Homo sapiens: one gene and its partner. The protein of the gene in region 2 purifies or fractionates together with the protein of the main gene of each other region. This does not show direct contact. Each region holds a gene or a part of one and is shown on either strand. Other genes may lie near its edges.

Region 1 (5,109 bases), on a different chromosome or scaffold from region 2:
ATGGTGCACACCTTTAGACCCAGGTGTGATGGTGCACACCTTTAGACCCAGCTACTAGGGAGGCTGAGGTGGGAGGATTCCTTGAACCCAGGAGGCGGAGGTTGTAGTGAGACTAGACCAGGCCTCTGCACTCCAGCCTGGGCGACAGAACAAGATCCTGTCTCAAAAAAAAATAAATAAATAAAAATAAAAAACAAAAACAAACAGCTTAAATGTCCACCAATGAGAGAATAGTTCAATAAATTCAGGCATATCCATTAGAAGAAGACAAATTTGTATGAATATTTATGGAATGCCCTCTAAGATACATATTAAATGAAAAAGACAAGTGCAGAAGAACATATGGAGAAGAACTGGGTGGCTGGGGGATGGTGTCTTTATAACTCTGAGTTAAGTACTATACATATAGGTTTTATCTTAAAAATAAATTTTATAAAGTGTGAATATCATGATACCTAGCACATATGCATTGTCTTTATTTAAAAACAGACAGTAATAGTAATCTGGCTCAACGCTGGGCACGATGGCTCATACCTGTAATCCTAGCACTTTGTGGGGGCTGAAGCAGGAGGATCGCTACAAGCCTGGGCAACACAGCAAGACCTCGTCTTTACAAAAAAAAAAAAAAATCTGGCTCCATAGAATATGTGCTAGCTTGCTTCTAAATCTTCTTATTGTTTCAAGGATACTCAGAAAGCACTTAGAACAAGGTAAGAACAATCGGATACTTTACTGTCTGCCCAACCTAGCTGTCCTGACCTCCATTCTGTGTAATATGATGCCGGCAGTGATGCTCTGGTGTCTTTAATCAAATATTGAGAAGACTTCCTAAGATTTCCACTGCAAGTAACACTTCTCAACAACTCCTCTCGCAGTGGGGAATTAACCAAAGAGGTATCTCTGTTCATCTTTAGAATGACTATAAGAAATCAGGCAACCTATGTTTGCTAAAGTCAACCATACTTCCTTTGTATTTATAAGTGTAACTTAAACTAGATACCATCATTCACACACTCATTGATTCTCCAAAGACGTACTGTATACAAGAGTCTGTGTTATTTGCTGCAAGGAATATGATGATGAATAAGACCCAGATCCTACCCTCTTTCAACTCTAGGATTTTAGGAAGTAGTCCGCAGTACATAAATAACTATAATAAAAGATAGAAAGTGAAATATGCCAGAAATAAGTTACAGATGGAATGCTATGGGATTTCAAATGACTGCAATTGTTATTAGCTAAGAAAATTAAAGCAGGGCTAGGTGTGATGGCTCATGCCTATAATCCCAGCACTTTTTAGGAGGCCGAGGTGGGAGGATTGCTTGAGACCAGGAGTTCAAGACCAGCTTGGCCAACATGGTGAAACCCCTGTCTCTAAAAAAAAATACAAAAAGTTAGCTGGTGTGGTGGCATGTGCCTGTAGTCCCAGGTGTGCAGGGGGCTGAGGCAGGAGGATTGCTTGAGCCCAGGAGATTGGGGCTGCAGTGAGCCATGACTGCACTACTGCACTCCAGTCTGGATGGCAGAGCAAGAACCTGTCCCAAAAATAAAAAAAGAAGGAGAAAATTAAAGAAGACTTCATGAAAAATGGCATTTGGGAGACAGGCCCTGATGGGTAGGTAGGATTTGGAAGTTCACAGACAAATCAAAGACATTCCAGGTTTAAGGCAGGGTGTTAGCAAAGAAAAAGTAAAGGGAGCGTATGGAGGACAGAAAGAAGTTAAGACCAACTGACATAGAAAATACAGGAAAGTGCATAGTGGGGAAATAAGACTGGAAAAGTTGGTAAGGGCTAGGCTTTGGGAGGTCTTTAATACTAGGTGTAGGAGTTAAACTTAGTCTGTAGAAGTAGGGAGCCAGTAAAGGTGAACTGAAGAAAGAAGTCAGGGAGATCAGTTAGATAACAATAGTTCAGTTAGACTTAAGACAGAATAGAAAAGCATAGATAGGTATCGAATACGTAAGAAGATTAATCGAGGCCAGGTGTGGTGGCTCACGCCACCCAGCACTTCGGGAGGCCGAGGCGGGTAGATTACGAGGTCAAGAACATCCTGGCCAACATGATGAAACCCCGTCTCTACTAAAATACAAAAAAAAATTTAGCCGGGAACGGTGGCACACGCCTGTAATCCCAGTTACTCGGGAGGCTGAGGCAGGGGAATTGCTTGAACCCAGGAGGCGGAGGTTGCAGTGAGTCAAGATCACGCCACTGCACTCCAGCCTGGGCGACAGAGCGAGACTTAATCTCAAAAAAAAGAAAGATTAATCAGTACTTGGCAACTGATTAGCCAAGGGAAGACAATTCAAGACCATGCTGAGGTTTTGAAGGTGGGTACCAGGAAGAAGGTGGCATCAGTAACTGGAAACAGATTAAGAAGCAGTAAAGGATGGAAATTAAGAATATGGGCTCAGGAATCAGACTGTCTGGATTCAAATCCTGCCTCTAATATTTACTAGCTGTGTGACCCTGGGCAAATTACTTACTCTTTCTAAGCCTTAGTCCCTCATCTAGAAAAAGGAAATAAGCAGAATCTACCTAGGGAGGTTATTTTTTAAAAATACTGATGCTGGGTCCCATGTCAGAAATCGTGAGTAAGTCTGCAGTCATCTTTAGTGGTCTTGAGCATGTGTATTTTCAGAAAGCCTCCCAAGGGATTAGGATACTCACAACTGAGACTCTAAAGGGTAACTTGCAAACCATGTCATTTTAATCTTGCATGGAGGTTTATACAGAAGTCAGTATACAAAATCAGCAGCATCTCAGACACCCAAAGACCTGACCAATCACTTTCACCCAATTTTGTTAGTAGCCATTTGTGAAGAATAGGACTGTCAAAAGGCTAAAAACACAACTTTGGGAAATCCTCCTGATGTGGGCTTCAGAAGCAGCCTGAAAGGAAATTAGACCATGAGACAAAAAGAACCAATAAAGAGGCATGAGCCATACTGCAGGAGCAAAGGTTAAAGCACAATTTACTAACATTCTCCAAGCAGCTCTTCTCCAGCTCCATTAGGGGTTGAGGGGGTACAGGCAGAAAGTGGAGATTACAGAGCTATTAGGATGAATTTACCAAAAGTTGAGCTAATGTTCTTGGGAAGGAATGAGGGTGGAATCTTCCACAATGATCTTTGAGAGCAAGAGAGGCCACCTTGGCTAAATAGTGGGCTCCTGCTGGTAACAGTGGGGTGGATGAAGTTACCCTGAGATTCCTTTAACCTTAGGAATTAACGTTCTTAATTTCCGGCTAGAAAATGGTTAGAGACTCCTCCCGTGCCAGCACCCCAACAAGCTCTCTGGGACCTACCTTTAAACTCCATGTTAGTAGCATCATCCAGAAGTTCCTCCTTCATGGTATTAAGTGTCTCAACAATCATATCCTTCATTTCCTCCTGCTTTCGGTTGGCAATATTCATCAATGATTCATACAACTCATTCTCCTTTTTTCGAGTATATTCCAGACGTTTGGGAGTGATCTGCAGGTCCCGCTGCATGTCAAATGCCTGGTTAATAAAGATGTCAAGGCAGTGGCAGTGCACCAGGTTCAGGGCCTTGGCTGCATCCACCAGGCGAGTCTGTAACACCTGGTGAGAAAATGTGCTCAAGTGTCTCAGCTTTTCACTCTGTTCCACCAACATGCTCTGAGCTTTAGTATCCTGGCCAGGAGCCCCACAGTTCCAGTGACTGCTGCTCAGATAGCCCAGGTCAATTAGCTGGCGATAAAGCGGTGATCTTTCGCTCTCCATTCTCCTGGTTGAGGAGTCTATTATCTCCGAGCCCAGTTTCGGCACTTTGAAAAAGAATACAGGAAAGGAGAAATACTTTCGGATTTCCTGAAGCTCTTGCTCATCCCTCTCAGAGAGTTCATCTTTGTGGAGTGCATAGGTTATCACAGGCAAGAAATCATTCACCAAGTCACCCAGAACATCCACTGTGGGCCGGAGGCCTTGGCATGGTGCTACCACAACGTCCACTTCCTGGAAGGGGAAGGGGGTCATATATCAGCGCCTCAGGGTCAGAACCAATCCCTGTCTCCCCAAAGTCCCACACTGAGACCAAAATCCTGATCTACAATGGAACAATTGGACTTCGGTACCCCAGCCATTGATCCACCTCCTTCCTCGGTTACCAACACTCCCTGGTGCAGCCTATGAAGGCAGGCACTCATCTAGAGAGAGTGAAAAAACAAAGAAGTAGAAAGGATGGCAACCCCTTTAGCCATCAGATTAAAAAAAAATTTTGGTCTCTGCCTTCCTTTATTGCTTAGACATTCCCACTGATTCCCTCTGATGAAGAATTAAGACAAATAATGGAAGAAAAAGGAATTGTAATGGAAATTATCAGACTGGGAGTGAGTCGACCTGGGGCACTCCTCCCCCTCTTGCTCTCCTCTGACACCTCCATCCCTGCCATTCTGACCTGGCTAACTCCTAAGCATCCTTTAAGTTTCAATGTATATGTTATGACATATCCTTATAGAGCCTTTCCTATCACACAGCCCCAACCAAGCACACTTTACTTCCCTCTTCTTAAGGTTCAACATATTTATAATCCACTTCTTTAAAACCTTTCTTTCCCCCATGGGTCTGTAAACTCTTTGAGGGCAGGGACTGGGTCTATTTTGCTTACTATCGTAGCTCCAGTGCCTAGCATGTGGTAAGTCCTAAATACTGTTGAATTAATCAATTAAGCAGGAAACGAAAAGCCAGGTTCACCAAACATTATTACTGTCCTGTTCTGAGTCTGTAGATATCCCGAAGTCTTAGCAACCTAAGTCTAAGAAATACCTTTAGGAATATGATCGATCACTTGGTATGGCAAAGACCAAGGTTTGCCTATCCAATATCTAGTCTCCATGTTATAAGTGAAGGCAATGTCCTTTACAGATAGGGGTATCCGATAAGTGGGTGGGGTTTCCAGGAAAGCCCTTTAGGGTACAGGGGGTGGATTCTACCAGGAAATATGTCCTTTGGCCTTGTCCTTCTTCCTGCTTGGAGCACAGATGTGACAGCTAGAACAGCAGCGATCACTCAGCAGCCCTAAGGCAAACCTGATGGTGGAAGCCAGCACTAAAGATGATGACACCAAAAGAAAGAGGGAGCTTAGGTCTC
Region 2 (5,109 bases):
GGCTATGTGGTGATTAAGATTAAGACACAGTAGATTTGAGAGGAAGCAAAGTTGTGTCCTAGATGGATGGGTCAGGGTGCCTGGGAGCCATTTCCTTCTCTGCCTCACTGCACTGGAAAGAGAGAAGCTTCAGATGGTGCTTCCTTTCCTCCCACAGCCAAGTCTGTCAGCCTGTCTGCATCTGGACCCTTCTGCTTGGACATCCTCTGCTGTCCTGAAGGCAAGAGCCTGCTCTTAGCAAGTCCTGGAGAAGTGCCCTCACAATCACCCCTACAGACAGATGCCCTTAACAAAGTTATGCCATGCTCAGATGGAAGAGAATGATCTCAGTGTGCCCACTCACCAGGTAAGTTTTAGAAAAGGTCTTCATTGTTATCGCCAAGATCCCTGAAATGAGAAACTGCAGGACAGATTTGAAAGTCAAAGGAGAGAAGCTGGGGTTCCTCAAAACCCACAAATTCCCACCCCCACCCCTATTCTCCAAGAAAATCAACCCTTGGCGGCCAGTGGGGCAGGGAATACTATTCCTCCAGCAAAGTGAGCTCCTCTTGCCTGCCATGTGGCCCATCCAAGAAGCTGCCCCACCTCACATCTTCCCATGTGCACAAACCTCCATACCTCCTCCCATCTCTACACCTTGGACCAAGCTGTGCCCTGCACTTAGAACTCCCTCCTAGACCCTCCTGCTTCCCTCATTTTACAAACCCAAACCATCGCTGGGATCAGTGGCACTATCCCCTCCACCCCGACTGTTTCTCTTTTCTTGAATCTTGCAGTTGGGAGGATATGAGTTCTTGCTTCCAAGGTCTCTGGGAGCACCTCTGCAATCATTCTTTCCAATGTGCACTGAGCACCTACTATGGGCTAGTCCCTGGGAGCACAGGGTGAATAAGCACTGCATGTGTGGAAAGTTCTATCACTGTGCAGTGAAAGCCCCATCCTGTGGGCAGTGAGAACAGTGGACTGATGTGAAAGGGGGATTGGGATACTTGCCCAAGACAGTGCCGTGGAGCTTGGACTTAGTGCATAGGCAGGACTCCACCTGGGAGTCAGGAATGGGGTGGGCTCCCTGGAGACCTGAAGGAATGTAGAGCTTCTGGGAAATGGTGCATGCACTGGTCCAGTGTCATCTCCCATCCTGGCTGATGGCCTTGGGAGGACAGGAGCCACACCTTACACCCTGTGTGTTTTTGTAGCTCAACCCCAACAGGGCACCTGTAGCTGGATCCAGAGGCAGCCTGGCTGCTCAGAAGGCTGGGGAAGAATGAAGCTGTCCCTGGGTCTTACTCACCCTCCTCTTTGCCAAATGCACATATTCAATTATGGGAGAATGGATAGCCTCCAAGTGCTCTCTTGGGACTCAGAATTGACAGGGGCTCCCTGGAAGGAGCTATTTCCATTGTGACTAAGATAAAAGAAGCAGAGCTAGGAACACTGGAGAAAGGGCCTCGCTTCTGCCGCACTCCTATTAGCTCTCTCTATCCCACCCTGCATCCTGTCCCAAATGCCAGGGCCTCCCAGGCCTGCCTTGCAGACTCCCACACCCGGTCTGTGTTTTGCCTTCTACTCACAGAGGCAGCCCCCCAGAATGGATACCAAGACTTCAGCACCACCAGGTGAAGGTTCTTGACTATAGAGGCCAGGTAGCCCCCAAAGACCAGGTGCAGCAGAGCGATGGTGATGTGGAAGGCCTGGGTGGGGAAGAGAGAATGGCTGGGGTGAGGGCATCGGTCACTGGCTCTAATTGAGGCCACTAGTGCCCTGGACCTACTGGCTGTGGTGAGTCCCTTCTGTCCTCTTAGGGATCCCAGAGACCAGGCTCTCTAAGAAGGACCACTCCCCAGGATTTCCTGCAGAAAGAGCTGAAGCTGCCAAGGGCCCCATGGGTGGGAGCTATCTATCCTGGAGCTGGCAGCCTTCTGCCATTCTCCCCAGGACAGGGCCCTGTCCAAACCTCACAAGGCAGTAGTAGGTGTGGGCAGATTCTCTCCAATCTTCAAGGCCTTTTCCAGTTCAGATGAATGTTCAGCAGGAAAGCTGGAGCCTTTCTCTTTTCCCTTTCTTCCCTTGGGGCCCCCCAGCATCCTCCTCATATCCCCCTCTCCTCTGCCTCCCACTGCTGGGACCCTGGGAAGTGGATGCTCACCCCCAGCTCCTTAAGAAGGCTGCTCTTCTTCTGGGACTTCTCGTGCTGGTGTGGAGCCAGGAGCTTGGGCTGGGTCGTGTTCTGGGGTGCACTTGTCTGCCAGGGCTGGACTGGGCTGAGGACTTGCCATGATGGGAGCCCCCTAGCACAACGGCTGGGAATAACTGTGGCTTCTGCTTTCATTGATGCTGGATGGGGGCCCTGGCTGCAGGACGGGGAGGAAGGCCGTCAGAACCCGTCTCATTTCTGAGGCTTGTGCCTGGGTGAGCCTCTGCCAATCACCTCTGTTTAAGGGACCAGATCTTTCCAGAACTGTGGTTGCCCTGTCTGGCAGCCCCTGGTCTTGGTCTTGATTTGACCTGGAATAATCTGGCCCCTGGAGATGGGAGTAATTGCTGCTCACAGCCTTTCTGGGGTTGCAAAGACACAGCTCCTTTTGGGGCAGAAAAATGAGGACCAGGCAAACTTCACAACCAGTGGAAGACAGAGCTCACCCAAAGTGGCCAGACTGCAGTTTGGAAGAGTTGGGAGGTGCGAGAGGTGCAGGTCAATGGAGGGGCTTTGTAAACAGTCTCCATCCACTGGTCCAAGAAGAGTGACTGAAGGCAGGTGGGAAATAATTGTCCTACCTCCTGTGGTGGTGCCCATGCCTCCTGGAGAGAAGGGAAGAAAATATCTTCCACCGAGGACTTTTTATGAGCCAACACTGAGTCAGGAAGTCCATATTTAACGATGCTAACATTTACAAATACTTTCTCTGCTCCAGGCACTGAGATAAACCTTCTACGTGCATTACCTGATTTTGTCCTCATTCCAACCCTATGAGGTAAATACCGTCCTCACTCTCATTTTGCAGATGAGGCTCAGAAAGGTTAAGCCACTTGCCCATGGTCACACAACCAGTAAGTGACTTGGACTTGAAGCATGGCAGGCTGGCTCCAGAGCCTGGGGCTTAAGTCCTTCATGCACTGTTGGCTCAACAATTGGAAATGAATGTTCTGGATGTTCTCATGGGCACAAAAAGGAGTTGGGGAAAAAAGTTAGAAGGGGGCTGGACACACGACCTGCAGACAGGGCCTGGTATAGTGTATACTGACGCCGTGGGATGCACTAGGGCTTGGGGGCTGCCTGGGACTTGGTGAGAAAATCCAACGTAGTCTTTCTGTCCCAGGAAGTGGACAGCTGGGCGGGGAAGAAAGGGAGCTGGCTTGCAGGGATTGAGGTCAGAGATGGTTTCTCCATGGGGATGGGGCTAATGAGCAAATCCTTGAGAGAGAGAGGCTGCTCTCAGACTGTATCCTGGATGAATGAAAAGGGAGGGCCATTCCTCTCACTTTTAAGTCTGACTTGTGGATCCAGGAAGTTCCATTGAGCATCCACATTTTCCACAGGGATGCAGGGAAAGAGTTTTGGGAAGTTTGGAGGGACAAATAGCCCAGGTGACTATATCCTGGATTGGGTAGAGGGGAAAGGAAGGGACATTATCAAGAGCCAAAGAGCCAGATGGGGCCTCACAGTTGGGTGAGCACTGTATGCCGGGCACTGTGCCAGGAGGCAGTTTTGCCTGGCAACCTCCCTTAATACTCAGGAAGTCAGCACCATTGCATAGAAGAGGAAACCAAGGTTCAGAGAGGTTGCCTGCCTTGGCCATGGTCACACAGTGAGGAAGTGCCTGGAATTGGAACCACGCATGGTCTTACTCCATCGCCAGTGCTCTGGGCCTGGGCTGCTGGGTAGGACCCCCTGATTGATATCTCCATGGTCCTGCAGTGACGACCGCTGATTTAGTGGGGTGAGTGGGCAGAGGGTCTCCCTCTTTCCTGGGCTTCAGAAGCTGAGCTCATAGACACAGTGCTGTATGATTCTTTTTGTGACTCTGCCCAGCTATGCATGGGAACTGTCCCTCTGGGAACTGTCCCTTGGGAAGGTTCCCAAGCCTTCAGAAGTCCGTCTGACACAGCTAGCTGGACTAAGGGATGTATTCGGTGGCAGAGGCCTGAACCAGGTTAGCCACTGGCTTCACCTAGACTCTGCACACCTGGGAGGACAATACCTGGACCCAGGCCTGGACTCCACTGCAAAGAACAGAAGAAGAGGGACTTCTTAGTAGAGCTGCCTTGGATGGAACTGCTTGTCCACGGAGATAGTGAGTGCCTGGGCACTGGAGCTGTACCTCCACCTAGACATTCACTTGTGAGAGCTGTGGCAGTAGGAATGGTTCAAATATCCAACAGGGAGTTGGACTCAAGAATCCAGAATAACCTTTCTCAAAGTATGTTCCATGGAACATTGGTCCTGATGTATCTGCAGTAAAAGGGTTCCATGGTCAAATAAGTTTGAGAAACCATGGTTAGCCTCTTCTCCCTTTTTCTCATATTAAAGACTCTGAGATTTTCTACAAGTGGCACACTCTGTTTTAGTATTAAGGGCATTTCCCAAACTTAATTGGCCATATAATCTTTATTATTTATTTATTTATTTATTTATTTATTTCTATTTTTGAGACGGAGTTTCGCTCTTGTCACCCAGGCTGGAGTGTAGTGGCGTAATCTTGGCTCACCGCAACCTCCGCCTCCCGGGTTCAAGTGATTCTCCTGCCTCAGCCTCCTGAGTAACTGGGATTACAGGCACCTGCCACCACGCCCTGCTAATTTTGTATTTTTAGTAGAGATGGGGTTTCTTCATGTTGGTCAGGCTGGTCTCAAACTCCCGACCTCAGGTGATCCGCCTACCTTGGCCTCCGAAAGTGCTAGGATTACAGATGTGAGCCACTGCGCCCGGCTGGCCATAGGATCTTTTTTTTCTCATTGTCTAACGGTTCTATGCAATTGGTATTCTGTGGGGTCTGCTTTTGGGCAAAGTGGCCTTGAAGGTTTCAATTTCTGGTCCTGGGCTCTGGTTTTTGGCCTTTTCTCTGCTTTTGGTTTGCTCACGTGCATATCACAGTGGGAATGGGAATTGAG

Evidence for each region. The genes of interacting proteins can lie anywhere in the genome.
Region 1: the proteins of MS4A10 (region 2) and DSTYK purify together in Homo sapiens (affinity purification with mass spectrometry; one large-scale study listed by BioGRID and IntAct). This does not show direct contact.

What each region holds. Positions count from the first base shown.
Region 1 is NC_000001.11:205,165,858-205,170,966, forward strand, and holds part of DSTYK (dual serine/threonine and tyrosine protein kinase), read right to left. Parts: intron 3,976-5,109; coding exon 3,306-3,975; intron 1-3,305. UniProt on the Homo sapiens protein: Acts as a positive regulator of ERK phosphorylation downstream of fibroblast growth factor-receptor activation. Involved in the regulation of both caspase-dependent apoptosis and caspase-independent cell death.
Region 2 is NC_000011.10:60,787,556-60,792,664, reverse strand, and holds part of MS4A10 (membrane-spanning 4-domains subfamily A member 10), read right to left. Parts: intron 2,352-5,109; 5' UTR 2,330-2,351; coding exon 2,147-2,329; intron 1,692-2,146; coding exon 1,572-1,691; intron 401-1,571; coding exon 344-400; intron 341-343; exon of another isoform or gene 158-340; intron 1-157. UniProt on the Homo sapiens protein: May be involved in signal transduction as a component of a multimeric receptor complex.